Regions from separate parts of the Homo sapiens genome. Here regions 2, 3 and 4 are each linked to region 1. The links come from fine-mapping of genetic effects on gene expression. A gene starts in region 1. Each other region holds a variant in brackets. All regions are shown on one strand. Distances are between the middles of the regions.

What was found. PIP is the estimated chance that this variant, and not a neighbour inherited with it, causes the effect.
Region 2: its variant is fine-mapped to the expression of NRN1 in whole blood (INTERVAL, PIP 0.90).
Region 3: its variant is fine-mapped to the expression of NRN1 in whole blood (INTERVAL, PIP above 0.99).
Region 4: its variant is fine-mapped to the expression of NRN1 in tibial artery (GTEx, PIP above 0.99).

Annotation. Positions count from the first base shown.
Region 1 is chr6:6,003,406-6,011,511 of GRCh38, forward strand. It overlaps NRN1 (neuritin 1), which reads right to left and starts at 3,520. Exons shown (of 3, transcript NM_016588.3): 1 at 3,290-3,520. The coding sequence starts at 3,344. RefSeq lists an enhancer at 160-984 and a silencer at 5,451-5,570.
Region 2 is chr6:5,825,405-5,833,510 of GRCh38, forward strand. It overlaps LOC124901250 (a long non-coding RNA gene), which reads left to right and starts at 1,139. Exons shown (of 2, transcript XR_007059424.1): 1 at 1,139-1,201; 2 at 1,740-4,159. The variant T/C (reference allele first, on the strand shown) is at 4,770.
Region 3 is chr6:5,982,799-5,990,904 of GRCh38, forward strand. LOC105374898 (a long non-coding RNA gene) reads left to right here and starts at 8,088. Exons shown (of 2, transcript XR_926413.4): 1 at 8,088-8,106. The variant T/C (reference allele first, on the strand shown) is at 3,490.
Region 4 is chr6:6,460,888-6,468,993 of GRCh38, forward strand. All of the region lies in intron 3 of LY86-AS1 (LY86 antisense RNA 1), which reads right to left. Among named protein-coding and RNA genes, the nearest start is that of LY86, 120 kb to the right of the region's middle. The variant T/C (reference allele first, on the strand shown) is at 3,777.

The DNA.
Region 1 (8,106 bases):
CACCCTTAACAACCCACCCGCCCGCCAAAAAGCCCGCCTACACTCCGGACGGCAGCGGGGAGAGGCTGTTCTTCTCCAGGTGCCAGCCCTGCTGCTGAAAGTGAGCTCGCCGCGGCCCGGGGCTCCTGGCCCCAGCTCAGGACTCCCTGCAGAGAGCAGGCAGGGATAAAAGCTGAGCGGCGGGAGGAGGAGGAGGAGGAGGAAACACAGGCCGCACGAAGGTCCAAGCCCCAAGCCCCCAAGCCCCCGGCCTCTGGACGGCCAAACCCCGAGGCGCGGGACTGGAAGGACAGGTACCAGGCTGCGGGCGCGCGGCTGTGGCCATCTCTTTCCGCCCTGAGGCCGACGAACCCGGCTGGAAGCTGAGTGCCTAGCGGCCCAAAGCAGCCCGGGCGCCGGGAGGGCGCCAGAGAAGCACAGCGTTAGGGCGGGGAAGAAAGGGTGAATCTCAGAATCGAAATCCGCACTGGCGCCCACGACCCTGGGCGCCGGCCTGGTCCTCGGCAGCTTTCTGGCGGCTGCGCTTGTGTGTGAATGTGTCCCGGGAGGACCGGACACCTCAATCCCCCGGCCCCCAACGCGGGCGCCTGTCCGCGAGCGCCGGGCCAGACGCCGAAGAGGAAGGTGACCGAACCCGTAGCAGCTTCCGAGAGCGTACCCGTTTGCAAATTGCTGCAGGAAGAGCGAGGCGGGCCTTGCGCTTTTTAATCCGGAACGGGAAGCACTGGGGAAGGGACCGAGGTTAACTTCGACCTCCGCTGGGGCAGATACGTAAACCTTCTCAAACCTCCGAGTTCACCTTACAGCGAACATTAAATACCCTTGCGACTACAATACTAACAAATCGAACACTGACGTAAAATCTTAAGAATAAACGAATCTTTGTTCTGATAGAGCTCGTTCAAAATGGAAATACACTCCACACATCTTCCTCTATAACGCATGTCACAAATACAGCTTTGCAGAGAAGAAACGAAATAAAATAAAGTCCAATCTCCCCGTCCACGTCTCTCCCCACCCCTTGCCTACACCCCCAAAACTCAGTGGCGAAAGAAGCCCCTAAAATGCATTGACATTTTTTAAGGGGAATTGGGGCTCGCCGGGGGCGGGAGCGCTCTTGTCACGTTATCTTCCCAGGCGCTGCTGGAGAAGACCCTGCACACCGCGCATGTGTGAGTGTGTGCTGTGTAAAATAAGTCGTGAACATTTCTGTCTTTTAAAACTGTGACTCCTTGGACTCTAGCCTTCTCTGGGAGGCCGGGAGGCTGCGCGCGGGACGGATTTTGCAGGCGCACGCGTCCCAGCAGGTCGCAGCCCGTGGGTCCCTCGCTGTCCTTCCTGAACCCCGCTTAGGCGAGACTCTAGCGGGTGACCCTGGCTCCTTCCCTGTCCTCTCTGCCGTCCCCTTCTTGTGCGGTTTCCATCCGTTCATTCATTCGTTCGACCTCTCATTCATTCCGAACTTCCTCCTGCTGCGTCTTCTTTCGTGTTCACCACACTCTTCTACCTCCCCGCCCCTCCCAACCCCCACTTTTCTTGCCAAATGTCAATGATTTGGGACAGCTCCCAGCCGTGAATTAATAAAGACCGAGGTTCTGTTGCAGGAAAGGGCAGACATTAGGGAACAAATACGTTCAATTTCAATTCCACAGTCAACAAATAGTCATTTTTGGACCGAGGTTAATGTGTTCAAAACGCGTCCCTCAGGCACGACCACCGTCTTTTTTTTCCCTCCAAACCTCTCAAAGTAAGGTTATTTCCTACCGGGAAAACAGAGTCCCAAATCTTGTCCGATTAAAATTTCTATCTCAAAAACAACTCTCTCTCCTGCTCTCTAAAAATTCAAAGGTTTATTGCAAAATGCCACATTCACTTATTTCCAACATTTAAGGAATTTGCTGCCATTAGAAATATTATTTACAGCAGCTCTTTTCACTAATGTCAAAGATTCAAAACAACCAGATTTAAAGCATTGTCATTTTTTGGAACTAAAGGAAAACACCAATATCCTGCACTCACACACTCTAAAATCTTTATAATGTTTCTGCATTATAAAATCTCAAAATCATGTCAGTTGCATAAAACCCCACTGCAAAGAATCCATTTTAAGGTCTAGAGAACTCCAAACCTTGTTTCCTTCACATTTCTTATGGAAAAAACATATTATGCATTCTCCTTTCTTGCCCCAAACCAATTACCTAAAGCACCCCCTCCCCCAATACTGCAAGGATTTGTCTGCAAAGAATGCCACAGCCTGAACTGATAGGAGGTAACAATTCCGTTTCAGGAGTTTCTTTTTTCCCCCGTGTTGTCCATTCTATTAATAACCTGCTTCACTTTCACTTTTAGGCCACGTTAATTAATGTTCTGACCCAGTGTCGGAGAAGGGGGTTTTCTAGTGCCCTCTTCTATATCTTTTCTTCATTCTGGATGGTAAAAATGTGAACTTTAAAAAGACCCCTGACAGCGTAACTACAACTCAACATTCCTTAACATAAAATGGGGACTAAATAATTCCTTCCATAACCAATCCCAAACAAACAAAAATAACAAACACCCGACATGACATATTCCAAACACTTCTTAACCCTTTCCTATATATAAAATGCAGACACCAATGTGTAAAGTAGCAGGCAAATGCATCTAGAAAAGTATATCTACGTAAATTTGGCTGAATTCATCCTCTTCAATGGTAAGCATGTTAAAATATGTGGTCTGAAGTTCCCTATCACTCTCGATTTGCCCACCAGCCGGGTCTGCGGTGCCCGTGCAAACGCTGCAGCTAGGATATAGGGGGGAGGAGGGGCGGGAGAATGACAAAGTTCTAAATGCAGCAGTCTGAGCCCTGGAATATCTTTGCTTTCAGCACATAAACTTTCCAGTCCTGGCTGCCTAGCCATTTTATTCCTGCATTCACATTTCGACTCTTCAAAATCATATCTTGCAGTATCGCAGGGGCCAGTACATTGCCCCAGAGCGCACCAAACCTGGTATAAACCCAGAAAGGGAAACAAAAATGGATGTGTGCTCAGGAAAAAGGGGGAAAAAAACCGTGTCCAGAAAATGTCCGGCCGCACACATTTCCTGGCGAACATTTGGAATCTATAGCTTTAGGAAAAACCGATCTGGGACGCGCTAGTCCCCAGGAACTGATGCCCCCACCCTCGGGGGATTGCCGGCTTCTCCGCACCCTGGGGCGGCCGCGGACCCGCTAGTCCCCCTCCGCGCCTCGGGCCGGGGCAGGCTGCCTCCCGCCTCCAGCCTCCAGCCGGGCTGAGCGGCCACTTACCTATTTGCACCGCGAGGATCAGTGAAATATATCTGCCGTTCAACTTAAGTCCCATCCTACGTTTAGTCAAACCATTTGCGACCGCAGACCTTTAAATAGTTAGTTTAGAGAACGCGGGGGAAAGCCAAAAAATAGGCATTGCCAACAAGTTCCGGGAGCGACAGAGACTTTATGCACTGGGAAGGCAGAGGGAGGAGAGAAAGAGAGGGAGCGAGGAAGAGACAGAAAGAGAGAGAGAGAGAGAAAGAGAGAGAGAGAGAGAGGCTGAGGGGGGGGGGAGAGCTGGGAATGGTTCACTCCATTAGAAGGGGGCGGAGGAAGTACAGCCTCACGCCCACGAGCAGGCCTGACGTGGGGGATGACACGGAATGATTTTTTTTTTAATATAGACACCTTGGTAGAGAATCGCCATTTATAGTCATCAGAAGCTGGAATTAATCAGATATCTCCAATTAATGTGCGATCTGAACGAAATTTTGCCTCCCGGGGGTGAGCACTTTCCTATTCTAGCGGTCACCCCTGCCTCTTCCTCGTTCCGGGGGCCCCCCAGCCCCGCCGCCTCCCTGCGCAGAACAGGGGCTCCCCCTCCCTTCCCCGCCAGGAGCTGGGGAGTCCTGGCGCGCCCACTCGATTGTTTCAACCTGCTCCCCCTCCTCCATCAGCACCACAGAGAATCCAGCCCGCTCTCTACGATGCAGGGGGGTTTAAAGGAGCGGGAGAGGGAAAAACAGCTAAGCTAGCTCGATTAATTCGAAAGCGCTCCTCGGCCGCCCGCCCCCTGCGCTTGCCTACCCTCTTTTTCTCCAACCCAGCAGCTGAGCTCTGGGCGCAGCCTGGAGCGCGTGAGCACGCAGCCCGGCCCCCCGCACGAGCACACACACACACACACACACACACACACACAAACGCGCGCGCGCACGCCCGCCAGCCGCGCCGAGCGCCCCCATGCCCGCCCGCACACAAGGCACGCGAGCGCGCGCACACGCCCAGGCCCCGGGGGTTTGGTTTGCACACGTGGGGCCCCAGAAATAAACACCGAATGTCCTCTGAATTTTACCCACCTGCGATGCCCCAGCGGGCCAAAGGCCGCTTCAAGGGACACAGCGACACCTGTTTTAGGGGGCGAGTAGGGCACCGGGGAAGGAGCCTCTGATAAGACAGTTTTCGGATACTAGTGATTTACCAACCAACTCTCAGCGCTTTAGGAAATTTCCAAGGCAAGCGCTGGTGTGCGGACTTCTTTCTAATCTTGATGCGCCTCTTGGGCTTATTTGTTGGGCTACACACACACGTACCCACACGCACACACGTACATCACGTACGCACACGCACACCCGGACCCACACACACCTGCACTGTCTTTTGATGCTCAGGCACAGACCCTGTGTAGGTGTAGCCTACCCTGCAACAAAATACTTCTGCAGCTGGCTTTGTGCTAGGTGCAAGCTGCTATCGACGACAGCTTGAGTCAAAACCGAAAAACTAACAGGGCTATTTCCTTTCTAAACGCCTTTAAGCTCTGGTTTTCTTCCTTTCTTCTGCACCAAACAGAAAAAAAAAAAGTCTAAATTGTAGCGTCTTTAATAAAATGCTAAAGAAGGCATTGGCCAGCTTTAATCCTTAAGCCTGTGGAGAGAAAAAAATGAAAACGACCCCCCAAATTTTGCCAAACTACACTAGAGGACGTCAAGCTGTCAAACTGTAGAAATGCACACGGATTAAGGAGAAGCGTTGAATTTGCTTCTACAGGCAGCTTGCCCTCTAGGGCCAATCTTGCCGTCCCCATACTCAGATATTTGGAGATGCATAGACAAAGGGGGAGAAAGGTGCAAAATAACGGGGGTAGGACAGGCTGTGGAGGGTAGGGGGCCGAGGGGAAGCTGCGGGGGTCCTACTGCAGCACTTGGTGACGTGAGGTGTCTGCAATGTGCGGCCCCTAACTCACGTCCCGCGGGAGCCTCAGACTCCCATGCAGCCTTCCTGGCCCTGGGGGCGGAGTCATGTCTCCCCGCCCCTGGTTATGTCACCGGCCTGCGGGCGGGGCGGTTGGGGGCTCGCCTTCCGGTGTCCAGGGGCACGGTGGCGGCCCCGGGTGTTTCCTTTCCCCGAGCTCGGAGGCTCCGGGAAGAACCGAAAACGTGGGCGGACAAGGGGTGGGGCGGGGGCTGGTGGCGAGAGGGGGGCGTTTCTCGGACCCTCCCCCGACGTCTTCCAATGGCAGGGCGGGAGGCTTTCCGAGGGGCGGGGCCTCAGGGGGGTTGCCACGCGGCCCGGCCCACGGCTCCGCCCCTCGCTCGGGGTTCCGCGTGGGGCCGGCCCAGCTTTCCCGGACCAGGCCACCAGCTGCGGGCCCCCAACCTCGCTCAGACTCGTGCAGAGCCCAGGCTTGGGAGTGGCTTAAGGTTTTTTGCCCTCAACGTCCTTGCCTTCCTCCTGCTTATCCACCTGGGATCTTCACAGCATCATTTTCTGGGATCCTCTCCAACCCCTCCCCTGTAACTCTGAGCGTGGGGCGCTGGGGATGTGGAGTAGGCAGGGCTGAGGGCCTCAATGAAGCGGGTGAACCCACGCGCGTGCGCACAGCCGCCCGCGCCGCGCCCCGGGCCGATCCGGTTCTTGCCCTTGGGACGTGGCTGCGCCTCACCGCCCTACCCCGGGAGGGAACCCCCGCTGACTTTTTCCTCTCTTCATTTTCCTCCCCAGGCGTCCCAACCTCCCTCATAGGCCTGAGTCTTTTTAAAAGTGAAGAAGAGAGAGGCAAACAGAGTTGGTACTCTACATAAATGATTTTCTGGGTAGATAGATGCACATGACATTTTATTTTTTGAAAAATTCTCATCTTTTAAATTACAGGTCGTTCTGCAGTCCAGGCTCCATGCAGGGTTGATTCTTCGTAGTTCTTTAATTAAAGGATATTGCATTTCATGGTTGTCAATGCATGCTGTCTGGGAACGGTAGCATCCATGGTTGGAGGTGGCTTTGGAGAACGTTCCCTCTTTTATTAATGTGAAAAGCTCATCTCACATCATACTTGGGGTTGAAGATGCAGTGGGAAGAGCAGTGAACAGGGGCAGGGAAACCCAGCTCACAGGCTGACCCCCACACTTTGGAAAATGAAGGAGAGTGGACTATGAAGTAATTTCCAAAGCTGTTTTCACCTTTGAAATTTTGTGAACTGAGGATTTTCTAGAATTCTGTGAATGGGATTAGGAGTGGAAACGCACAATCCGAAGAATAAAATCCGTGCAAGAGTGCTTTTTATAAGCCAACTTCTTGCAAAGAACGTATTTCTTTTTGATAAGCAATTTTGTTTAAAGAAACAAATACAGTTCAGGAGAGGGAAAAAGTCACAGGTGCTGTTTGGGTCTGCATGTTGAATTGAGCCAAAGTAACTCCCAAAAGTAAGTCTGCATAATTAAGGTAATAAATATGCAAAATTCCTTATCCCTAGAACGGCCAGAAAGAGACTATGTCTAATTTTAAGCCTGGTGGGCACCAACTTCCTTTCTCGTTTCATGGCGCTACAGCCCTAGTCTGGATGAGCAGTATGCCAGTTGATTCCCCAGCTCCTGCTATGAATCCATCATAGGTCGGCTTTCCAGAAGCTGCCACCTCGACAAACAACCCTTTGAAATTATTTGCAAGAGCAGTTGTCAAGGCCACTAGGAAATCCCATCTTTGTATTCTAGGTCAGAAAAAATCGCTGCTCTATTAGAATAGATTGGTCTAGCAATACATCTCTCTCATAAATTTAGTCAGTCATTTAAATATCTTCAGCTAAAACCTTTAATAAAAATGTGAATTTATATTACATAACTTTTCATTAAAATGATAACTATACTGTATTTAAACAATCATATAGATTACGAGAGGAAGGAGATTTTTGTGGAGGTATATACATTGGTAGAGGCCCCAGTAAAAATCTACTTCGGGAGGCCTGGGTCTACCCTTGCATCTGTGGCTTGGTAAGGTGATTTTTTTCACTCTCTGATCTTGAGACTCTTTACAAAATTAGTTGAAACTTCAAGGCCTTGCTGGCCGGGCGCGGTGGCTCACACCTGTAATCCCAGCACTTTGGGAGGCCGAGGCAGGAGGATCACCTGAGGTAAGGAGTTCAAGACCAGACTGGTCAACATCTCTACAAAAAATACAAAAATTAGCCGGGCATGGTGGTAGGCGCCTGTAATCCCAGCTACTTGGGAGGCTGAGACGGGAGAATCACTTGAACCCTGGAGGCAGAGGTTGCAGTGAGCTGAGGTCATGCCATTGCACTCCAGCCTGAGGAACACAGCAATACTCTGTCTCAAAAAAAAAAAAAAAAAAAAAAATTTAAAAATTGAACTTGATTTGAATGCAGTAATTTGAAATCTAGGAGCAAATGCTAAATTTGAAATGTAGAAGTGTGATTAACTTCCATCTTAAAAATAAACACTTTATTTAAAACAAATCAACGTTTTTATCATGAAATATACACACGGAACAATGCACAAAACAAGCATGCACAATTCATTGACTTATGACAAAGGGAATGCCTATGTGGTCCCCACTCACACTGAAACAACTGGAAGAGGCATGACAACTAAATGCAACCTGTATTCCTGGATAAGATTCTAGACAAGAAAAGACAGAGATGTTGTTGGAACAGCCAGTAAAATTTCAGTGAAGTCTGTGAATTAGGCATTAGTTTTGCACCAATGTTGATTTCCTGATTGGGGAATTGTATGCTGATTATAGAAAAAATTGTCCTTGTTTGGAGCAACATATACTAAAGTTTTTAGAGTGACAAGACATCATACCTGTAGCTTGCTCTCAAAAGG
Region 2 (8,106 bases), 180 kb before region 1:
AACAAATCCAGACAGTCCCCCACTTATGATGTTTCCATTTACAATTTTTCAGCTTTACGATGATATGAAAGTGACATGCATTCAGTAGAAACCATACTTCTATACCCATACAACCATTATGTTTTTCACTTTCAGTACAGTATTCAATAAATTACATGAGCTATTCAACACATTATTATAAAATAGGCTTTGTGTTAGATGATTTTGCCCAATTATAGACTAATGAAAGTTCTGAGCACACTTAAGGTAGGCCAGGCTAAGCTATGATGTTGGGTAAATTAGGGGCATTAAATACACTTTTTAATTTTAATATTTATTTATTTAGAGACAGGATCTCACTCTGTCACCCCGGCTGGAGTGCAGTGGCTCCATCTTGGCTCACTGCAACCTCCACCTCCCGGGCTCAAGTAATCCTCCCACCTCAGCCTCCTGAGTAGCTGGGACCACAGACACGCTCCACTATGCCCAGCTAATTTTTGTATTTTTAGTAGAGATGGGATTTCGCTATGTTGCCTAGGCTGGTCTTGAACTCCTGAGCTCAAGTGATCTGCCTGCCTCAGCCTCCCAAAGTGCTGGGATTACAGGCATGAGCCACCATGCCTGGCCTAAAAATGCTTTTGACTTACAGTGTTACCTACCAACAGTGAGTTTATTGGGACATAGCCCCATCGTAAGTCAAGGAACATCTGTAAATCAATTAAAAAATGGACACAGGACCTGAACAGACATTTCTCAAGAGAAGACATACAAATGGCCAATAGGTGTATGAGAAAATATTCATCATTAATCATCATGGAAATGAAAATTAAAACCATAATAAGATAGCACCTCACACCTGCTAGGATGGCTAAGGATGTGGAGAAAAGCAAACCCTTGCACATTTGGCGGGGATGTAAGTTAGTGCAGCCATTATGGAAAATAATGTGGAGGTTCTTCAAAAAATTAAAAATAGAACTCCCGTATGATCCAGCAATCCCACTACTGGGGATATGTCCAAAGGAAATGAAATCAGTATGTTGAAGAGATATCTGCACTCCCATGTTCATTGAAGCATTCTTCACAGAAGCCAAGACAGGGAGTATCCATCAATGGATGAATGGAAAAAGAAAATATGATGTATATACACAATGCAATACTATTCAGCCTCTAAAAAGAAGGAAATCCTGTTCTTTGCAACATGGGTGGACCTAGAGGACATTAGGTAAGTGAAATAAGCCAGGCACTGAAAGCCAAATACGGCATGATCCCGGTTACACGGGGAATCTAAAAAAAGTCAAACTCATAGAAACAAAGAATAGGATGGTGGTTACCAGGGGTTGGGGGTTGGGGGGCTTGGGGAGATGTTGATGAAAAGATTAAAATTGTCATTTAGACAGGAGGAAGAATTTCAAGACATCTATTGTACAACATGGTGACTACAATTAATATATTGTATACTAGAAAATTGCTAAGAGTAGATTTTAAGTATTCTCATCACAAAAAATGTATGTGAGGTAATGCACGGTTAATTAGCTTGGATCAGCCATTCTACATGTCAAAATATCAAAACTTGCTGTACACACAAATGCATACAATTTTGTCAATTAAAAAAAGTTACGGATTTTATCTAGACAAAAACAAGAGATATAAGAGAACAAACCAACACCAGCAGCCACTGTGACCATTTGAGCCCACCCGTGGGGGGACTGGTACTTTACACGTGTTGTATCTTTTCTGGCTCTCTCTCTCCAACCCTGCAGGGCAGGTGGCATCTCTACTTAACCATGAGGGAACAGAGGCTCAGCCAGCATGTTGAGACACCAGAATTCAAAAGCCCAGTATCCTCCCAGGACTCCATTAAAGCAGATGTGCAGAAGGCAGTACGGCCGGAGCACAACCAATGCCCCTGGGGGAGGCCCACGGGACCGTTAGGAAAATAAGACAGGCACAGGAAAGAGATGTCCAGCGTCTGAAGACAAAGCCACAATGAAAGCCACCATTCTGGGGTTGGGAAGGTAAAGAACTTCAAACCAGATAAATGAAGACTGCAGAAGAAAGAGGAAGAAATGGAAGTTGCTCTCTGACAGGACAACATGAATTTGGCAAGGGGTGGATTAGGCCGAGTGCTATCCACGGTGATGAAACACAGCAGCCGGTAGTCATGAAATATTTATGAATGGGGAGAGGATGCTGCATTCTGCAGTGCAGCACAGGGGAAACCGAAGTTTCAAGAATACTGTAATAGCAAAACCCTCCATTAATTATCGGAAGCAAGCTGTAATGCCAGTTCCTATGGCAACAGGGTCCCCAATGGATTTTGTGCTTTTTTTTTTTTAAGCTGCTCCCATTTACTATGGTACATTGCATTTATTTTCTATCGGAGGTTTTGTGCTTGTCTTCTGCAAATGAATTCATCCTGTCCTCACAGTGGCTGGTGTGGAGACCGACAGGCTGGGGCCTGGGGAAGGTTAAAGATTATGCAACTTTGAGCTAAATGCTCTGTAAGCACATTGATGACTGCTATGAGCACCTTCACTTCTGAGGGGAAAAGGAGGGGAGGGCAGGAAAGAGGTGTGGAAGGGAATAACTAGGGTGCATGGCTAATTAGAGGGCATCTATCCCAGCCCCCACACGCATGGTCTTTGGAATCCAGGCTTGCACCAGGGAAGAGTCCTTGAACCCAGCTGGGCTCTCCAACAACGTGCCTGCTGCAGCTGCAGTGGAAGCTGATAATTGCTCAGAAAGCTCAGACACAGAGTCCTCTGGGGTAAGGGTGCTGGAGAGAACAGTGGCTTGGTTCCCAGAGGAGCAGGCTGCCCCTCCCAGAGAAGCACTCCACCTGTAGGCCCAATCTCTCTGCACCGCCCCCCCCCCCCACATTGCTTATCAGCTCCCCCTCAGTGTGAAGTGGGAGTTTAATCTGGTGGCCCTTTGAATGCGGGTCTTCCAGGGGAGATGTTCTGTGTTTGCCTGGCCATGGGCTGCTGTTCACAGAAACATTCTGTCCCAGGCCACAGGAGCGCCTCAGAGCCACCCTGGGGTGTGGGCGAAGCGGTCAACAGCGGCTTCCTCCATCCTTCCCCGGATGAATGACTGACAAGTTGATGGCGGAGCACCCCGCCGCTCACTCAGGAAGAGGCTGCCTCCAGGTGGGGAGCTTGTACGTTTCCCTCTCAGGGCTGCAGCTGTGGCTTGGGAGGTGTCCTGTCTTTTTGGTGGCCTCATGAGGGCTGTGTGAGTCCTGATAAATGGCATAGGATGGGGAGTCCCCTTAATGGGGGACAGTACAGGTCTCCTGTCCGTGGGGCTATTCCAGGTTAAAAATAGATTCTACCGCTGCAGAATGATTATGCTGGCTCTACTGTGCTTTCTAAGTCACCAAAGGGACTCACAAGCATGTGTGAGTAGAACTGGGAGGATGCCAGAAGAGGGATGAAATAAAAATTGTGTACGTATATGTTTCTTTTTGTGGAATTCTACCTGGAGCCATAGGAGTACGACTTACCACTCAAGAGAAAGGCTGTGCCCAGAGCCAAGGAGGAGCTGTGGAGACGTTTCTCCCAAGTCATCCGTTCTCCCTATTTAGACTTCAACCTTAGGACGGACCTTCAGGCATCCAGGCCACCTACTGACCTCTCTGGCATGGGTGGGAACCGGGAGCTCGTTGGTAAGCAGGAGGATTCAGGACTATCGAGCGAACACCACTTCCTCCGTGGCACGCACCGCGCTGTGTCTTTGGGCTCATCATCTCATCACCTCTGCACAGGAAGATTATCTCCCCCACTTCGTGATGAGGAAACGGAGGCTCCAGGAGGCAAGTCATTGCCCAGGCCACACTGCTCCTCAGAGGCAGAGCTGAGATCAGAACTCACTTCTGTCTGACCCCAAAGCCTGTGCCAAACGCCTTGCTCGCTGGCCTCTTGCAGGGAAGGGCAGTGTCCCATTGCAGCCAGGCCCCAGCACAATACCAGGCTCTGCAGGCCCTGCATCACTTTCCCAAGGCCCAAAGGGGGCACACCACAAAATGCTGGGGGTGTAGGAAGAAGATATCAGAAATTCTAGTTATGATTTCCTCTTATCCTAGTAAAATACCAACTTCTATGTCTGTGTTGTGATGCATTTATGAGCTCAGCAGCACATTTATAGAATTTATAAATCAATAAACCTTCACATTGTGGAATACATGCTCAAGTTTATTTTACTGATATTGGAAGTGAGCAAAAAGACTAGAGTATCATGTTCAAGATAGTGACCAGGGACCACCCCAGGGCTCCTCGGGGACCAGAAAGGATGGCTTGCCGAGGGTGGCCTCCATCTTCCCTGCAGCATTGTTTGTTCCCCGGGATCCTTCCAGGCCCGCTCAACTCTGATCTCAGTCCCCTGTGCATTTCTGTAGGAAGCTCGCTTTTACTAGACCTGAGAGTTCAGGCAAGCCCTGTACCCTCGGGAGGCCGGCTGTGTGCTCTGCTGTTGTTTGCTCTCTATGGGGGCTCTCCAGTGGTCCAGCGGGCATTACAGGAGCACAGGGAGGACGAGGGGAATGGAGAAGGGGGATTGAAGGGCACATACACTTAGACCCCCACCGGCCACCTACAGAAGGCCTGAGGGGACAGCCCTTTCTGAAGTGATGCCTTCCTCTGTTGGGAAGCCAGGAGCCTCCCCTGGTGGGACCCATGAGGCCCTGGGGGTGGGGCAGGGTATGTGGGACGGGCACAGAGCCCCTTCAGTTTCCTTCTCAGGCCAGAATCATAACTGTCCATGCATTCCTTAAAAGCAGAGAGGGACCCTCT[T/C]CTTCCCCATCCATCAACAGCCTTCAGAGTCTAATTACATGCATAGAGCTTCAGTTCCCTTCTCTGTAAAATGGGGCTAATACTAATAAGACCTCTTCAGGGCAGTGTGGGAAGTCAATGAAACTCCATCTCTAAAATCACCCAGCAGATCATAGGATCTTGAAGTAAGCACAGTGTTTGGCATACAATAGGCACTCATCAATGCTGGTTCCTTTCACTCTCTGCCACTTGCTGCCTGTGCATGAGTTAACGTCCCAATGCCTCAGTTTCTTCATTTTCAAATGAAAGATGATGCCTATCCTCAACTTCAGATGAGATCAGGCACGTTCAGGGTGGTATGGCCATAGACCCCAACTTCAAAACAACAGGCACATCCATTCAATTCAGGTAGCACCCACCAACTGTACCATGGGCTTAAGAGGCAGGAAGAACATGGTGTGAGCCCACAGCTTCGGGTCCTGTTGCTCACTCTCTGCACATCCTTGTGCAGTTATCTGGGGTCACTTGCTGGCCTTTTTGAGTCTCAGTTTTCTTATTTGTAAGCTGGGGATAGTCATATCTCATTAGATTTTTAGGAGGACTAAATGGGACAATAAATATAAAATGCTCAGCACAAAACTTAGTCTATGGTCAGTGCTCAACAAATATCAGTCACTGATAATAGTAGAACCACCTGGAAATGACACTGTCATTTCCAGGCCCTCATGAGGATTCTCATTTACTCGTCATACTAGCCCTGCAAAATGGACACTATTGCTTCCGTTATACAGATGAGGAAACTGAGGCTCAGAGAAGCTAAGTAACTTCTTCAAAGTTGCCCAGGCTGGGCGCGGTGCCTCATGCCTGTAATCCCAGCACTTTGGGAGGCCAAGGCAGGCAGATTACTTGAGGGGAGGAGTTTGAGAACAGCCTGGCCAACATGACAAAACCCCCTCTCTACCAAAAATATAAAAATTAGCCAGGCGTGGTGGCACGTGCCTATAGTCCCAGCTACTCAGGAGGCTGAGGCAGGAGAATTGCTTGAACCAGGGAGGAAGGGGTTGAGCATGCCACTGCACTTCAGCCTGGGCAATAGAGCAAGACTCTGTCTCAAAAAAAAATAAAAAAATAAAAAAGTTGCCCAGTGACAGAGCCAAGTCTTGCTTTACAAGCCTAGGCTCGCTCTCCTACACTAACTACCTGGCCCCATGCTGCCCAGTCCTGGGCTGGCTGCAGGAGGCTGCTGCATTACCCACCTCAAACCACACAAGCACTGGCAGTAACAAGAGGCCGTAGAGAACCTAGAGTTCTCCAGTGGGTGTGGTTCTCTGGCTGCCGTGGGCTGCCAGGGATCCCTTAGATCACAGACTCCACAGTTCTTTCTTGCCACCTCCAGAAGTGAGGCTGCAGCCCCATGAGCCAGGCAGCAGGAAGGGAGGAAGTCTCGCTTCTTGCCAGACACATTGTTTAACTGCAACAGTCAGTTCTCCAAAAACTCTGCCGGAAGTCCACCCCGGAAACTCAAGGGAGGAAACTGACTGCCTTCTTGGGGTTTTCTTAACTGTGCTTCGTTTTTCTGCTCTGCAGGAAAGATGCAACCTGGGCCAGAGGCCCCTGGAGGCTGTGCCTGACCCCAGACAGATCAGACAAACCCGAGCAGCCATTAGCAGCTGCATGGACTCCTTTGCACTGTGGGGCTGCTCCTGGGGTGCAAGATGTCTTTGTGTGTGTATGGGGTTCGGGGGCTGGGCTGGCTGACTTGCAAAGGACACGCTGTGGCCCAGCCCTGGGCAGCATCCAGCCTGCTTAGGTGGCCTTCTGGGGGCTTGGCTAAAGACACTGAGGCCTTTCTCTGTTTCACCTCCTTGTGCCAACTTGGCTGTGTGTGAATAAAGGAATCACAAGCACACGCCTCTCTGAGTTCACACTTGTGTAAAGTTGGACTGAAGAGCTTGGTGAATCAAAGTTCAAGAAGGGTGACTTTGCCGGACATGGTGGCTCACTCCTGTAATCCCAACATTTTGGGAGGCTGACGGGGAGCAGATCACTTGAACCCAGGAGTTCAAGACCAGCTTGGACAACACAGAAAGACCCTGTCTCTACAAAAAAATTTAAAAATTAGCTAGGTGTGGTGAGGTGTGCCTGTATTTGCAGCTACTCTGGAGGCTGAGGTGGGAGGATTGCTTGAGACTGGGAGGTTGAGGCTGCAGTGAGCTGTGATCATGCCATTGCACTCCAGCTTGAGTGACAGAGCAGGACCCCATCTCTTAAATTTAAAAAAAGGAAGAGAAAGGAGAAGGAGGAGGAGCAGGAGAAGGAGAAGGAGGAGGAGGAGGAGGAGAAGGAGAAGGAGAGGAAGAAGAGGAAGAGGAAGAAGAAGAGGAAGAAGAAAAAGGAGGAGGAGGAAGAGGAGGGGGGAGGGGGGGGAGGAGGAGAAGGGAGGAGATGGAGAAGGAGGACACCTCAGAAGCCCTAGATAAAAACAGGGAGGAAGAGAACAAAAACATCAAAGCTGCTGAGTCTGGTGTCAAGAGCAGGGGCCTTAAAATCTGTGTGACTTTGTCCTTTGAGTTAACCTCTCTCATCCTCAACTTCTTGTTTGTGAAGTGGGAATAAGATTTTTTTGTGAGTTTGTTCTGAGACTCATAAGTAACGTACATAAAGCTGGTGGCTCCTGGTCTGTCTTATCATCCGGGGTTAAGCTTTGAAGTGGGCACAGGTGCTGGCAGCTGTGGAATGGGGGGAGGTTGCAGGTGGGTCCCCTGGTCACAGAGAGCTCATCACTGCCAGAGCTCAGGAGCCCCCTCACTGGAGAGGCCTCACTGCCAGGGTTCAGAGCTCCCTCACTGGAGAGGGACTTCCTGAGTGTTGCAAGCTACATGGACAGACCATGTGAGATCAAGCGTCCAGGCCCCTGGGCCAAGCAAATCTTGGGCCAAGATTGTGTGGCTTTAGGGGATGTTATGGAGCCTCTCTGGGCGTCAGCTCCTCCTCTGTAAACTGGGGACTGTGGTGGCGATAATGGTACCCACATATACAGAGACTGACAAGTACTCATGAAACAGAGCTAGGGGTGTATGTCTGTCTCACATCAAAGGGCTTTCACACTGCTCTGATTTTTAATAATAATTATTATATCAGTATATATTAATATTTAATTATATTATTATGTTAATATATAATAATTATATATTAATTATCTTATATTAATTATTAAAATATAATAATAATAATTATTAACAGCTCTGGGAGAAGGTTATCATGAATTTTTTTTGGAGGGAGGTCAGATGACAGCTCGTCAAGGTAACAGAGTGCAAGAGAAGAGCCTGCCTTGGTTGGGGGTGGTCAGGGCCTGGGC
Region 3 (8,106 bases), 21 kb before region 1:
AAATAAATGAATAAATACAGGAAATCTTCAAAACCTATTTAAGCCACTATGGTTGAGTTATTAAGCAAAATTACCAAATACATCATTGTTCTATGATATAGTTTCTCAACCTTGGCACTACTGACATTTTGGGACAGACAATTATTTGTGGCAAGGGCTGTCCTGTGCATTGTAGGATGCGCGGCAACATGCCTGGCCTCTACTCAGGGATGCCAGTGGCACCCCCTTCTCAGATGTAACAAGCAAAACTGTCTCCAGGCATTACGAAATGTCTCCTGTGGAACACAATTACCTCTGGTTAAGAAACACTGGTGTATGGGGAAAAATGTTCCGAATGCCAACTAGGGACCCTAGAAATATATATTCTGTCCCTCAATGTCCTCACCCAAGAGTCTCAGAGGGCTTCTTTTCCTCCTTGTTCTTATGTTTTCTGTCTAACCTTAGCCCTGCATCAGATACTTCATTTTCCTCCTCCCGTCAGCTTCCTGGGGGAGAAAGGGCAGGAAAAGCAGCTTCAGGGAAGCTGCTTTCCAACTGGAGCAAGTCAACCCCAAAGACAGGAGAAGTGGGGGACCTGAGTGGTGTTGCCATCACAGGCAAAGTTTGCCTCTTGATTCATTTTGCTAAGGATCCACACCCCCCCAGTCACACTCCACACAGAGCCCTGCGGCGACATTTACTCATGCAGTCATGGGTTCATGTGCCCCATCGCAGGCCATGAAGAACGTGGTTTGTATCAGCTTACTTTCTGCTCTTCTGGATGATTGAGGGCAGCCACATGGGATCCTCTGGAGGTGCCCAGCACTTGCTTCTTGGTCCTATATCGAGGCCTGCTTACTGTTAAGAGCAAAAGAGACCAAGATGTTGGCTGAGCACGGTGGCTCACACCAGCAATTCCAGCATTTTGGAAAGTTGAGGGGGGTGGATCACCTGAAGCTGGGAGTTTGAGACCAGCCTGATCAACATGGAGAAACCCCCTCTCTACTAAAAATACAAAATTAGCTGGGCATAGTGGCACATGCCTGTAATCCCAGCTGCTTGGGAGGCTGAGGCAGGAGAATCGCTTGAACCCAGGAGGCGGAGGTTGTGGTGAGCTGAGATCGAGCCACTGCACTCCAGCCTGGGCCACAGAGCAAGACTCCACCTTCAAAAGAAAGAGACCAAGATGTGAGCTGAGTGGTGAAGATAAAATCTGGATGTGGAACTGTAGTGATGCAAAGGCAGAGGGGAGCAGGGGAGAGGCTGGAGGTGACCACTCAAGACCTTTAGGAGACAGAAAACTGCACAGAAGACTGTCTGCCCAAGGCCTAGGGCCCAGCTTTGCCCAGGGAATCGAAACTTAGAGTATGAAGCAATGTTATAAAGCAATTTTTTTTTAGTTGTGCAAGTGTCAAATGCTGTAAATGAAACAAAATCAGGCAATGTGATAGTGCCTGTTTGCTGGGAGGATTTCCGGGAGAAGGTGGCTATCACTTTACAATGAAAGGTCAGAGAAGGTATCTCCGAAGAGGTGGCATTGAGGTTGAAACAAAATGACAGGAAGGAGCCTTCCACACAAAGACTCTGGGGAGAGGCAGAGGAAATAATGAGTTCAAAGGCATGAAGGCTAAATGAGCGTGGGGCATGCAAGGCAGAGAAACAGCAGGTAAACAGTGGGGTAAGAGAAAAAGGCAGGCCTTGGATCAAGTAGGGAGAGACACATTATAGAAAGAGCAAATGATCCTTACCCTGATGGGCTGTCTCGGCTCTTTGCAGTCCCTCTCAGTAGCAGACACCCACCTGTGCTTGATAGTTTTCACCCTGTTTCATAACATTGCACCTACTCAGAAACCACTGTCTCTTTGTATCTGTGATCACTTAGAGTCCATCAGCTTGGTGCTGACTTTCTTCTCTTCATGTAGACAGCTGTGTTATAAAAGACCCAAAGGGAGAGGGACAAAACCTAAAAAGGCTACTTTGGGGTATATATGAGCTTTGGAATTACCCATCTCCCTGCCAGGAGGTGAGGAGGGAAGAGTTCACAGTTGGCGTGTCCCTTGAGCAAGAGAAGATAACTCGCTCCTGCTGGTTCTGCAAGGTTTCAGCAGTGATGGTTGTTTTGTAGTAGCTCTGAACTTGCCAAGAAAAACACATTGTTTAAAACAAGCCATTCATTTTGAGAAAGGCTATTGTGTAATAATTTCTTTTTCTTCACCCCTTCATCCACAACCACGCAGAGACCATGGTCATCAAAATAATAGGTCTTTTTTATTTTTACTTAGGGGATCCCAATTTTTCTCCTGTGGCTATGAACAAGGGAAAATATAGCAAAGGGAATGCTGATTGGTTTATTATGCAAGTCTGTAGTTGGGATGACTATAAAACAATGAACATTATTTTCATAAACTACATGAAAACCAGTGTCTTATATTAAGCTTACATAATTACAGCTATGTCATTCTTTATGTTCCCATGTCAATGTTCTCTGCTTCAGATGCCCCTCCAAGAGGACAGGAATTGGACCCACTTTGGGTAGCCTTGTACAATGCAACCCAGCACCCAGCAACGTCCTGAAGAGGCTGCTGACTGCTCTGGTCGAAGTGGAGCAGGGCCCTTCCTCCCTCCACTGGAAAGGGTGGGCAAGAAGCATCAGTGCTTCTGGTATTTGACTCAGTGAGACCTAGATATTGCAGATCTGCCATCAAAAATATTTGTAAAGCCGTTTGCACCACTATTATCCTTCTGCTCCTTTTAAAACCTAACAGGCAGGCCCAACTTGGAAACTTCCAAGAATGAAACACCACCTTCAGAAAACGTGGTAATTGATAGAAGAGTCTGGTGCTACTGCATGATGCATTCCATACCCTCTGGGCTCCTCTCTCTAGTTCTTTAACCTAGTCTCTCTCAAGCTATGATGAGAAAGGCACTGATTATTTCAAAATGGTGCAAATCACCTGCTGTTTAAAAAACAAGATAAATCCCCCAAAAACGAAAAAAATGAAGTTGTCAAAGACACTGGAATGAAATTTCTGAAGAACCAATCTTTTCCCACTGTGTTTCTCCATCAAAAGGAAAAGCTAGGCAAGCTTGTTGAAATGATCAGCTCCATGTGTTCAGCCTGAGTATAGGGTAGCAGGAAACTGCACCCTAATTTTAGTGTTCTGCATGGACTCTCATTACTGCCCAAGCACATGGCTCTCACATGCATAAGTCCTTCTTGAGTACTGGTTGCTAACCCTCCTCCACACTTGGTTTGCAGAGGATATTTCCAGAGTTAGAAGGGTCTTCCAGAATTTCAGAAAAAGAGCACCAGATATTCAATAAACCATGGTTTTTCTAAAGGAATTAATGGGTTGTCTGTCAGTCAACATTTGGACAAGCTGAGTCTAAGGTTGGCCCTGTAGCTCAGGAGTTGGGTTTCTACAGTGCCTGTTCTCTAGTTCCTTTTTGTGTTGTTCATCTCTTCTAATAAACTTTGGGCATAGGTTCAGCAAGTGAGAGGCAGGATAA[T/C]GGAATGGTAAACACACGGCCTCTGAAGCCAGGCTATCATATTGGGACCTGACTCTGACACCATCTCTGTGACTTAACTTCTCTAGGACTGAGCTTGCTCGCCTGTAAAATGGATCACAATAGGGCCAACATCATGAAGATGTTGATGAGCTAAATTAGTTAAGTGAAAAGCAGTTAGAACAGCACCTGACCCATCATGTGTCCAATGTGTTAGCTCTTCTTAATAGGGGTGCTCTACTGCAATTACTGAAAAGGGCTTTATTGTGGCAGCTCATTTGAAGAATTTAGAGGTCTATACCTATAGTGGGTTCCCAGTCTTTTGGCCGGCTCCTGGGATACATCTCGGAAGATGAATGTGGGAGCATCTGAATTCCTCTTTCTCTAATCTCTCAGGTTGGCTACTTCATTTTTGAGTAGAGCCCCTTCAAACACATACATTTTTTTCCCCTTTATGTCTGTTATTGTTCCCGGTGATAAGGAGTGTGTTTTTGGCTCAGCTCCATGGTTGCCCTATCTATTAATATATCTTTTCTCCATTGCCAGGGCAGGAAGCCTGAAAACTACACTTTCCAGACTCCTTTGCCTACTGCTTCTTGTTAGCTTTTGCCAATGGGAGGCTCTGGCAGAAGATTGGAAGGTGGGAGGAAAGTTGAAACAAGGTTTTTCCCTTCAGCTTCTGGGGGTGTCTCCAGCTATGCAAAGGGCAGCATAGTGTCATAATGGCCCGGTTGTGGTTGCCATTTTCCCATTTACTCTTTCAGACCTAATCACTGCAGTGTTTCCCTGCTCATCTTTGAGTAACATGACTTCTCTTTATGACTCTTCTCCTGTTTGTATACTTACTGCTGTTTTCTGAAACCGCTTCCTGGTTGACAGGAATCATTGTTTAAAGACTTTAGATGCTCAAAGAATTTTGCTATTTGCTATACAAAATGACTTAAATCTCTAAAATCCTTGTTTTAAAAAATCTTAAAGGCTGGGTATGGTGTGGCTCACACCTGTAATCCCAGCCCTTTGGGAGGCCGAGGCAGGAGGATCACTTGAGACCAGGAGTTCGAGACCAGCCTGTGCAACATAGGCAGACCCCTGTCTCTACAAAAACAATTAAAAATGATCTCAGTGTGGTGGCGCACATCTATAGCCCCAGCTACTTGGGAAGCTGAGATGGGAGAATCGCTTAAACCCAGGAGATGGAGGTTGCAGTGAGCTGAGATCATGCCACTGCACTGCAGCCTGGGTGACAGAGCAAGACTCTGTCTCGAAAAACGACAACAACAACAAAAAACTTACAAACAAAACCTATCAAAACTCACACGAACACACAGGGACAAGTGAACAAACATTACAGATTAAAATGAAAGAATATGCCAGATACACTTTATTAGTTATCTGTTGCTACATAACAGATTATCCTTAGACAGTGGCTTAGACAGCAATCATTTATTATTTCTCATGGTTTCCGTGGGTAAATAATTTCAGAACAGCTTGGTTGGATGGTCTTGGCTCGGAGTCTCCATGAAATTACAGTTAGATATCAGCTGGGGCTGCAGCCGTCTAAAGTTTTGACTGGGGTTGGAGGATCTACTTTTCAAAATGGCTCACTCTTGAGGCTGGCAAGTCAGTGCTGGCTGTTGGCAGGAGGTCTCAGTTCCTTTCTATGTGGGCTTCTCCACAAGGCTGCTTAAGTGCCTCATGGCATGGCAGCTGGCGTCCCCCAAATAAAGTAATCCAAGGGACTAAGGAGGAAACTGCAATACCTTTTATGACTTATCCTTGGGAGTCAAATTTCATTAATTTATTCATATTCTATTGGTTACACAAAGCCAGCCCTGATTCACTGTGCAAAGTGACTACACACAGGCACATATACCAGGAGTCAAGTTCACTGGAGGCCCTTTTGGAGGCCGGATCCCATGTGCATAGTCACTGTGTATGCATTAGATGATAAGCGCGTAGTCTGAGTGAAGATGAGACATGGAAAACTCTCCTCTTCAAACAAGGGGCCAGGAAAGTTATAGATTTCAAGAGTTCCTTGAATGAGAAAGAAGGAATGAAAGAAGGACCATGAGTCCTTCAGGTTTCCCTGTAGCCCGTGAAAAAATATAACAAGCTAATGAAATGTTGAGCTAGTTGTTCTGAAAGGCATAAACAGGATGTATTCAGTTGCTTCTTTTCTCTTTCCCTTTTGTTTTAGCCACCATTTTTTCATTCTCTCTTATCTGCATTGCCATGGATGTGTCTGTTCCTTTGTTTCTAACCATTGGTAGGTACTCCATGACATGCAGCCAACAATTTTATGCCTCTACTCACCAGGAATACACACGCATGCTGCCTAGGAGGAGTTTCTGAGGGAGAAAAGGCATTAGCAAGAAGTAGCCCAGAGAAGTGTTGGCATTAGCAACACCTTTATTTATTTTAAAGTTAGAACATGCAACTACATATGTGTGAGGTGGTAAGGACTGGAAATGTTCTTTACTCAATAATCATCTGTGCCAGGCACAGTGCCAGATACTGTGGGAGGTTCAAAGATGGGTGAGACATAGTCCCTGACCTCAAGGAACGTATGGTTTAAAGACAAAACGGATCAGCAGTTCTCTAATTGGGATACAAAATTAAGAACAACAAGAGGTTATTGAGGGCCATCCCAATAATTCTGACCAGGGGATCAGGGAAGTGTTCATGCAAGGTTGAGCCTGAGAAGGATCTTGAAGGAATAGGACATGCAAGGGTGGATGGGAGGCGCTGGGGTGGAAGTGCAATACATTTTAGCCTGGAAGAACTAAATAAGCAAAGGCATCGAATAGAGGAGGGGTTGCATAGGTTGAAGGAGCAAGAAGGAAGTCAGTACGGCTGTAGCACGTGCGTGGGAAACATAGAGGGCTGTGGTTGGGGAGAAGGCTGGCAAGATGAGATGGGACCAGATCCTGGTGAATCTTCGGTGTCACGCAGGGAGTCAGAGTCACTCAGCAATGATTCAGCAATGGGAAGGAAATGAAGGTTCTTAAAGGAGGGAAACGACATTTTCACACCCATGTGGAAATGGGAGAATTAATACCAGAGACACTGAGACCAAAATGTGTGTCTCTGGTTGAAGAAATTATGACTATTTTACATTTTTCCCCTTTGAGTCACCTGCAGTTTCTAATTTTCCCATAGTGAATGTGGACATGTGGTGAAAATTTAAAAATAGAATACATAAAATAGTGTTTAAAGGGTAAGATACACATGGGGGAAAAGGAGGAGGCCAATGAGAGTGGAGTGTCTGCCATTGGTAAGGAGGAACCTGGCTCTGGAGGCCACAGGCTGGAGGCCAGCCAGGAGGAAGCTGGCAAAAAGGGGAAGGAGAGGATTTCATTCATATAGTCTCCCAATATCTGCTGAGTGTTTGCCTTGGGCTGGGCACTGTTCTAGGAACTTACAATCATGTATTTGTGAAATGGCTGAGAAATGGAGAAACAGCTGCGTGCAGTAAAAGGATGGACAGGGAAGGCCTTTTTTTTTTTTTTAGGCTATAAGAGATTTGAGTGTGTTTGTAAGCTCAGGGGAAGGAGCATGTGGAGAATGAAACACAAAATGTCAAAACCAATGGAAAAGATAAAAGATGAGGTCCAAGAGCCAATCAGAAGGAATAAGGTCAGGTTTGCAAATGCAGTGTGTATGTGTGTGTGTGTATGTATCTGTGTCCCAGAAAATATCTAAATTAGAGAATATATGAACATCTGTATAAATGTGTACACATGAGCACATTTTGGATTTGAATTTATAGTGACTCCTGAAGATAAAGATTTGGGCAGAATTGGAGGCATTTTTCTCTGCCATCTACAAAAGTGTCCAAGGGCTATTCAGAAATAGGAAACAATATACCACAACCCCAATAAACAAAGCAAGTGAGGAAATGCAGTTTTCCCCATGTTATGTTCCAAAGAGCAGAAAATATTACAAGAGGATGGGAGAAGAATGGTTACACAGGAAAACACGCTGCACAAAGGGTGCAGTGCAACAGGTGGAAGGTGTGCGTGATACCAACATGACTGCCAGGCCGGCTGAGAGTATACAAGCCTCTGGGAGACCTGGCTGCCACATGGCTGGACCATCATGTCTCTGGACAGGGATTGATGGATGTGCCTCCCATGTGCTTTGATGTTCCTTATCCCCTTCAAAGTTGCCTGTTTTGAAGAATTTGTGTTTGGCCAGAGTTAAATGACCCACTTTGCTTGGGATTTCTCTCCCTGCCTCAGTGAGAGCGCAATCCAACTTGTTTCAGGTGACACCCTGAGGAGACAAGCAGAGGACTTTGAGGACTATGAAAGCCATTTTTTATAGTCACTTGCTGAAGCTCAGCTGACCCTCCCAGGAAATGGAAAGATTGAGGCAGGCCCAGGCACTGCAGTCTGTGGCAACCGGGTCAGGAAGGCGCGCTGAAGTTAATTATCCAGCCTGGCATCCCCACAAGCTTGCTTGTTTGGTGTTGCTTCTTTCTTAATCAAGAAGAGACTCCCATGGTGGTGTCTTAATGTAAACAAAGCAATTTGTGACTTGATTAACAAATCAAGGATGGACAAACATGTCCTTTTCTCCCTTCTCCTCTTTACTAGGGACTTGGACTATTTTAAGGAG
Region 4 (8,106 bases), 460 kb after region 1:
CCACATGCCTCCAAATTGGCTTCCTGATGGGATGCATCTGTCTGTTCCACGGACCCACCAGCAGAGAGCTTTTCCCAGCTTGGATTCATACAGAACAACCTTATTAAGGACAAATTGTCATCACCACTTTCATTTTCTAACTTTGAAAAGGGGAGTGATTATCCACCCTCTTTTTATGTAAGTGGGAGAATAAATGAGTAGATCCAGACACATTTTTAATAGTATTTTGGGATTAAGAAATGAGTAGATCCAGACACATTTTTAATAGTATTTTAGGATTTAAAAATGGCCCCCTCTAAACTAGATTCCTGAGAACTGATTCACTGAAGATGGTGAGCCACAGGAACTTCAGAGAGTTCCTGTTATAGAATCACAGGGACAGAAAACACCACCTCAGCTGCCTCCCTCAAAATTATAAAAACCCAGGTGCTATTTTAGTACCGACCCGCTCCCCCCGACTCCAGTTCTAACACCTGTCTTGGTTTGGGTGATAAATGTGTATTCAAACCACAAGGCTGTGAGTGAAGATGTCTGCCTTTTGCTCCTGTGGGCTCCAACCCATCCCAGCAGAGGCGATGCCAGCAGACAGTGGTTAAAGGGATGGGTGTTAAAATCCAGCCAATTCCCAAGCACACCCAGCTCTGGAGAAAAATGCCCGTCAGACTTGCGGATGGAGCTGAGCTCCAGCAACCATGCAGAGCCTGGGAGGGGCAAGGAGACTGTGAGGGCAGAGGTCTCCAAGGATGTGGCTCAAGACAGGTGCCCATATGACCCAGGACACATATGGCAAAGAAGCCGAGTGCTAGAAGGGAAAAGTGTGGGCAGAGGGAGACTATCTTTCAGGAATGTAGTCTGTAATTACAAGTGTAGACCTGCACGTGGAGTAAATCCTCCACACTGCTGGGTCACTCCTGAGGATCAAGGAAACATCTCAATGGCCGTTGGAATAATCTGGGCATTTAGGTTAATTGACTTATGTCTTAGATTAAGATCCGAGATCCCTGAGATGGGGTTTCATAAGCTTTATTAGGAAGTGGATTTAGGAAACCAGTAGAGGGAAGTGGAGAAAGGAAGGGAAGGGAGCTCAGTCCTGCAGAGGATGCTGTAGAGACACAGCAACCACACCTCAGAGATGAAGGAACAAGAGAGCTGGAATAATGATAACATTGTATCCATCAGTCACCCACCATCAAGGACTACCATGGGGAATGGGATGGGGATGTATGTTCCTAGACACTTCCAGCTTTCAGAGTGTGCAGAGGAAGCCAAGTTGAAGGTGTTATTACAGGCTGAGAACAGTGGCGGTCCTCAGACAAGGCGACTCAGCCACGCTGGCTGTCAGGAGTGAAAGTTGTACAAGAATATGGCAGAAGAACCAAAGGGATACCTGTGGAGCAGCGCCAGCATCTGCTATAGGGGAGGCCATTGCCTAGAAAATCCACATAGGGGCTGCTTAGAAGGGAGTATGACCTCTGCTCAGAAAAGCACAGGCAATCTGCGCTCATCTTTCTAACAAAGAGTTCCTGGGCTACTCGTCTCAGATATTTTCGATGTAATTGCCCAGTTCCTGTAGTTTTAGAGAAATTTGCCCAGACTAGTCTTTCTCTCCCATCCTCCTCTGTATTCGTGTATTCTTCAAACCGCTTTTTCCAATTGCTGTCTTTCCTCTTTCCCTTTCCTCCTTCCTTTCTTTGCAATCTTTCTCCTACTCCTTCTTGCTCTCCTGCTCTCTCAGCCGTCGCTCACCTTGAAATGCCCATGTTTCTGCATAAAGACAGTGCAGATACCAAAAACTACTTGAGGCAAGAAAGGCAATCAAAATTAATTTGGCAGGTTGCAGTAAAGAAGCCAGCCAAAACCCACCAAAATCAAGATGGCAACAAAAGTGACCTCTGGTTATCCCCACTGCTCGTTATATGCTAATTATAATGCATTGGCATGCTAAAAGACACTCCCACCAGTGCCATGAGAGTTTACAAATGCCATGGCAACATCAGGAAGTTACCCTATATGGTCTAAAAAGGGGAGGGACCCTCAGTTCTGGGAATTGCCCACCCCTTTCCCGGAAAATTCATGAATAATCCATCCCTTGTTTAGCATATAATCAAGAAATAACCATAAGTATTCTTAGTCTAGCAGCCCAAGCTGCTGCTGTGCCTATGGAGCAGACATTCTTTAATTCCTTTATTTTCTTAATAAACCTGCATTCACTTTAAAAGAAACATAAGTTTAGAAATTTTTTCCCATTAAATCAGACTTCTTTAAGGGGGATAAAAATCCTTGGATTATTGACAGAGTATTATTTGATTCCAAAATCTCATTTAAACACCTTAAGTTTTAATAGGTTCATTGTGTCCGTATAGCCATAACGTGCATTTAAAAATCCATGCTGGCTCAGTGCTTCGTGGTATAGTCCTGTTTCTGAAGCTATGTGTTTATTTAGTGGTGGCTTTCTGTTTTATTTGGAGGTATTACCATGTGAAAACATTTGGTAAGCCTGTCCTCTCAGCCAAAATAAAATCTAAGAGAGTTTCAAACATACTTTGAAAGGCTAGTGGACACTAGCCAAAGATCAGGGATGTTTCCCCCACTTGTGCTCACACAAACTTGAGAAGAGATGAATAACTACTTCCTGTTCTCACTAATACCTATCTCTAATTTAAATCTGTCCCTAATTAAAAACGCAGTAGGATGAGAAAGTATAGGATATGATTTGGCTGTGTCCCCACCCAAAATCTCATCTTAAATTGCAATCCCCACCTGTCAAGGGACAGACCAGGTGGAGGTAATTGAATCAAGGGGCGGTTTCCCCCATGCTGTTCTCATGATAGTGAGTGAGTTCTCATGAGATCTGATGGTTTTATAAGTGTTGCTAGTTCCTCCTGCAGTCATTCTCTCTCCTGCCGCCTTGTGAAGAAGGTGCCTGCCTCCCCTTCACCTTCTGCCATGATCGTTAAGTTTCCTGAGGCCTTCCCAGCCATACAGAACTGTGAGTGAATTACACCTCTTTCCTTTGTAAATTACCCAGTCTTGGGTATTTCCTTCTAGCCATGTGAGAACGAACTAACACAGTATAATTGGAAGCCCTCATCATAATAGCTACAGAGGAGGCATTAGCAGCCTCCATCAAAATTCAAAGAACTGATTCATAAAATCAGACAAAGAGACAATACAAAATATGGACTTTGTTGCCTCTCTAAAGATACCAAAATCCACAAAATAATTAATGTCTGTATTTGTACTTCTAACAAATTAGCTTTAGGAATGAATGGGTAAAAAGAAACATAATTCTTGGCTTTATTTATTTTTTCCCAATACTTTGGACTTTGGGTTTGGACATTTTCAAAGAAGATATCTTTATTCTAACCATAATAATACAGTTTAAAAACTCAGTTACTTAATGTCTACTCTGGAGGGATACAAAATAAATAAGATGTAGATCTTGACCTTGGGATGCTTATACACTAAGGAAATCAAACATACACTTATGAAGTAATTTGAGAGGAATGAAAATATACATGTGAAAAATAATATTGGCAACAATTCAGAGTGGAAAAATAACTCCAATGCAAAAAGTGAGCATATGAATCAGGGAATCTTTCCTTACAATGGGACCATGGGCACAGGCAAACACAGTATGTCTTAAGTGGTAACGCTGCTTTTATTTAAGCTGGAAAGTAGGACTGGAGTAGTTTTACATTCTTTACTTGAATTTACTACTTTCCTATATTTATCTGAAAACTATTTTCAACCGTGTGTTATCAGGAGCTGCTGAA[T/C]GAAGAATGTTGGGGAATTTATTTAAATAGATTCTTATTCCACGTTCACATAGATGTTTTTTAGTAGCCACTTTGACTCTCATTTGAACACATTCTCTCTAGTGAGAAGTAATAGAGTAATGAGCAAAAGCAGATACCCACCAGGATGTATGATAAAGGTGAAAGAACAGGCTTTGTGAAAGGAGGAATTAGATGCCAAGATCGGCAAGAAGAGACACATAGTACCATAGTACCCATCCTGTCATCATCGCAGGAAGAGCTGTATTTGAGCAGACACACTGCACGTCTGTGCTCTGGGGAAGGGGCATTGCCTTCCTGTCTTCTTAGATTGAGAGTCAAAAACAGCCTTGGTTGTGAGGAATGATTAGATGAAATGTTAGCACCTGCCATCTGCCTATATGTTTCAGCTGTAGGCAAAGCTGTCAGAGAACATTCACATTTGTACCCGGAGACCTTGTAAGATGCTGGATTCAGCTGCTGCATGGGCAGGGAAGGGGCACAGTCCTCGGGAAGCTGAGTTTGGGCACAAGACCTGCCACTGGAGAACAGGGGGCTCTTGACCCTGGTGAACCCACTGCCTGGCCATTGATCTTCCAGGCATTCACCGGACAATTTTCCTTACTTTGCCACAGTAGAAATAGGGCATATTTAGGATTGGGGAGATGTTGGTTGAAGGATACAAAATTTCAGTTACCCAGGAGGAATGAGTTCAAGAGATCTATTGTATAACATGATGACTATAGTTAATGTATTCTTGGAAAAAAGGAAATAGGTCACATTTATTTGAAAGAAATAATTAGGAGATACTTCACAGCTTCATAACCTCCAAGAGCCGGTATGCTGGTGGGCATGTCATATGCGTTCTAACAAGAGCTTCCAGAAAATTGCAAGGACTCAGCTCCAGGGTCACTCTGGAGCACTTTGCTTCCTCTGCCACATCTAATGAGGTGAGAATGTGATAGAGCCCTGTCTGTCTCCCATGCAGCCTGAAGTAATCCCATACCAGGAAGGGTATTCTCTGTTGGTCTTTGTTTTGGACAATTTGGCAACTGAATTCAACTCCATTTGCTGGGGGAAACCTGCTGCTACTGGTTTTGGCATCCTATATTAAAGTGATTATGATGACAGCAATAGGTATGCACTCGCTGCATGTCAGGCACTGTGATGAACACATTACCTACATTATCCTATTTAATTCTCCTGACAAATTAGTTATTTTTATGTCACCTTTTATCACAAAGAAAATTGAGTGGAAAAGTGGGGATTCCAACCCATCCTTGTAACGACTTTACTGTTCAGTCTTGACAATTTAGTAAAGAAGGCACTGATGCTCGAAGTTAGCCACAAGAAGTTAAGCCATAAGGCTGGGTGACCCTTACCTCCCTACCCGAAACCAAAGCTTTACGAGGGAAGAAATTTTGTGTCTTACTCCTCAATCTGTCCTCAGTGATGAGAACAGGGATTGGTACAAAGTAGATGTTTAATAAAATTGTACAATGGATGAACCCTCAAAAACCTCCTCTTCCAGGCCACAGAGGTGTGTCCCCAGCCCACTGTGCAAAGCTTGGAGGGAGGCAAAAATAGCTAAAGAGGCTAAGTCTGTCTTTGGGTCTTGCCACCTCTACTTCTTGGGAACTTTGCTCTCCGACACCTGCTGATTTAGAATCCTTACCTTGCCTCTTGTAAATTTCTTCTTGGCTAGGGTGTAAGATAAATATAAGAGAACTTAGAATTAGGAATGTCTCCATTAAAAACAACACCTCTGCAATTCCTCATCTACATGACTCCAAGCCAGTAACTTAAGCTTTCTTAGATCATTTGGAGACAACAATGTCTAACTCAAAGGAATATATATATACTTCAAAGTCATACATACATATTATATATCATCACTGACTAATTATCATTACTATTATTATTTTAGACAGGGTCCCACTCTGTCACCCAGGCTCTGGAGTGCAGTGGTGCGATCACAGCTCACTGCAGCCTCAACCTTCCTGCCTCAATCAACCCTCCCCTTAGTCCACCTGAGTAGTTGGGACTACAGGCGTGTGCCAACGTGACTGGCTGTATATTTGTTTTTATTTTTTGTAGAGACAAGGTCTCACTATGTTGCCCAGACTGGTCTAGAACTCCTAGGCTCAAACAATCTTCTGGCCTCAGCCTCCCAAAGTGCTGTGATTACAGGCATGAGCCACCATGCCCAGCCTATCACTGAAAAATTATTGTAAAGCATCTGAAAAATTAGTCTAAATGGAAAAGTTCATCAGTGACAAATATTTCAGGTATAGAATGTAGGCTTTCCTCGATATTTCTCAGATCAACCCCAAGAGCGGCAACCATCCGCTCTTGACTATATTTTATGGTCACTTATAATGGTATTCCATCTGTCATCTACTAATAAACATAACATCCCCTGTGGACCTTCCATTGAGACCAGTCATCAGATGGCTCAATCACCTCCATAGGTGCTTCTACGTAAGTACCAGAGAGTCAAGCCAGACCACAGCGCTCTGGGAAGTTAGCCCAGTTCTTTTGTATCAGAAATGAATGACTCCTGCCTTGTTCCCACCTCCACATCCTCCTACACACACACTTTGAAAAAGGTGATGTCAAATAAACAGATTTTTTTTTTCCTTATTCAAACCCTGCAAGTAACCTCAACTTACTGAAAGTCCCTGGGAACTTAGGAGAAAGAGAAAATGTGTCATCTTATTTTTTTACTTATCTTCTAATCAAACAGAAAAGCCTCAGCTTTGCTTGGGGGCACTGGAACACATTTCCCTTCTCTGGGCGATGAATATTTAACACATGGGTCAGCTGTAAACAGCTGTGGCTCCCTGATGAATCACCCACTTCAGACACCCAAGCAATGTCGTCATCCAGGCCCTGCCCACAGGCACCTGCGTTTCTCCGCCTCACCTTAAAACACCAAGCAGCTTGTTCCTAGCCTCCTTAATATCAGGACTCCTTTGCCCACGCGGCTCACAGGGTGGTAGTTGACATTTGATTGCCTTTGCCTCTATTGAGCTGATTCATCCCCAGCCTCACACTGCCTATCACTTGTCTGTAGTCTCGTACTTGACACCCATGTGCTTGTTGTTAACTGTGGGAGCACCACCCTTTCCCAGTTTTCTCACTGGCCTGCAAGTTTCTCCCCCTCTCTCTATCAAGCATGGACCCCAGTCTGTTTTATAAATGAGTAAATGGAACCATCTTTCCTGCTTACGTCAGAATTTGCTTCCAGTGCTTGTAACTCAAAGCATCTCAGTCAGACCTACTTCAGGTCAACAGCCCCAAATAACACTGCGCCCGGGCAGGGCGCGGTGGCTCACGCCTGTAATCCCAGCACTTTGGGAGGCCGAGGAGGGCAGATCACGAGGTCAGGAGATGGAGACCATCCTGGCAAACACGGTGAAACCCCGTCTCTACTAAAAATACAAAAAATTAGTGTGGTGTGGTGGCCGGCACCTGTAGCCCCGGCTACTCGGGAGGCTGAGGCAGAAGAATGGCGTGAACCCGGGAGGCAGAGCTTGCAGTGAGCCGAGATCGCGCCACTGCACTCCAGCCTGGGCGACAGAGCAAGACTCTGTCTCAAAAAAGAAAAAATAATGACAATAATAACACTGTGCCCGGCAAGGTCAGCTAATGCCACATGGTAATTGCTGCATGTGTGAGTAGCAAAATCACATGGAAGAGGAGCTGGCCTTGGGGACAATGCCACGTTACAGTGAGGAGCTCCAGAAAAACCCACGTGCAAAGTTCTCAGGTTCACGCTTGGGTGCCCATCCTCTGCCTGACCCCTCAAAAGAATAAAGATCTTACAAATATCCAATGAATACCAGGATGGAAATAACTTGTTTCCTGGCATTCAAGACAGAGGAAATCCTTACTATTAAAACTAGAAATGATTAGCAAAGACATGAAACACAACAGTTTAAAAAACCACAGGGGCCCACAAACACGTGTGGATATTCAATTTTTAAGGACTCGAAACTAATGCAAGCAGGTAGTTAATCTTACCCTCAGTCTCTTACCTCAGAGCAGTTATCTCATTTTAAAGACCCTCATGAAGGAAGTTTCACAGTCATTTATGCAGTAGCTCTGCAGGTAACCTTCATATCAAGCATCAATATGGACATACTGCACTTATTCAAGTACTCAACCTATTTCCTTCTCCTAAAGAGCTAATTCTGTAACACCTAAGAACAGTCACAGTTCTTCCTTTAAATCTAACCTTAATATTCTGTGCTGTGGCTTCATCTTCCTCACCTCCTCTTATTTTCCTCAATGGAGATGGGGCCTGTTTTATCACCATGAATGCCGTTTT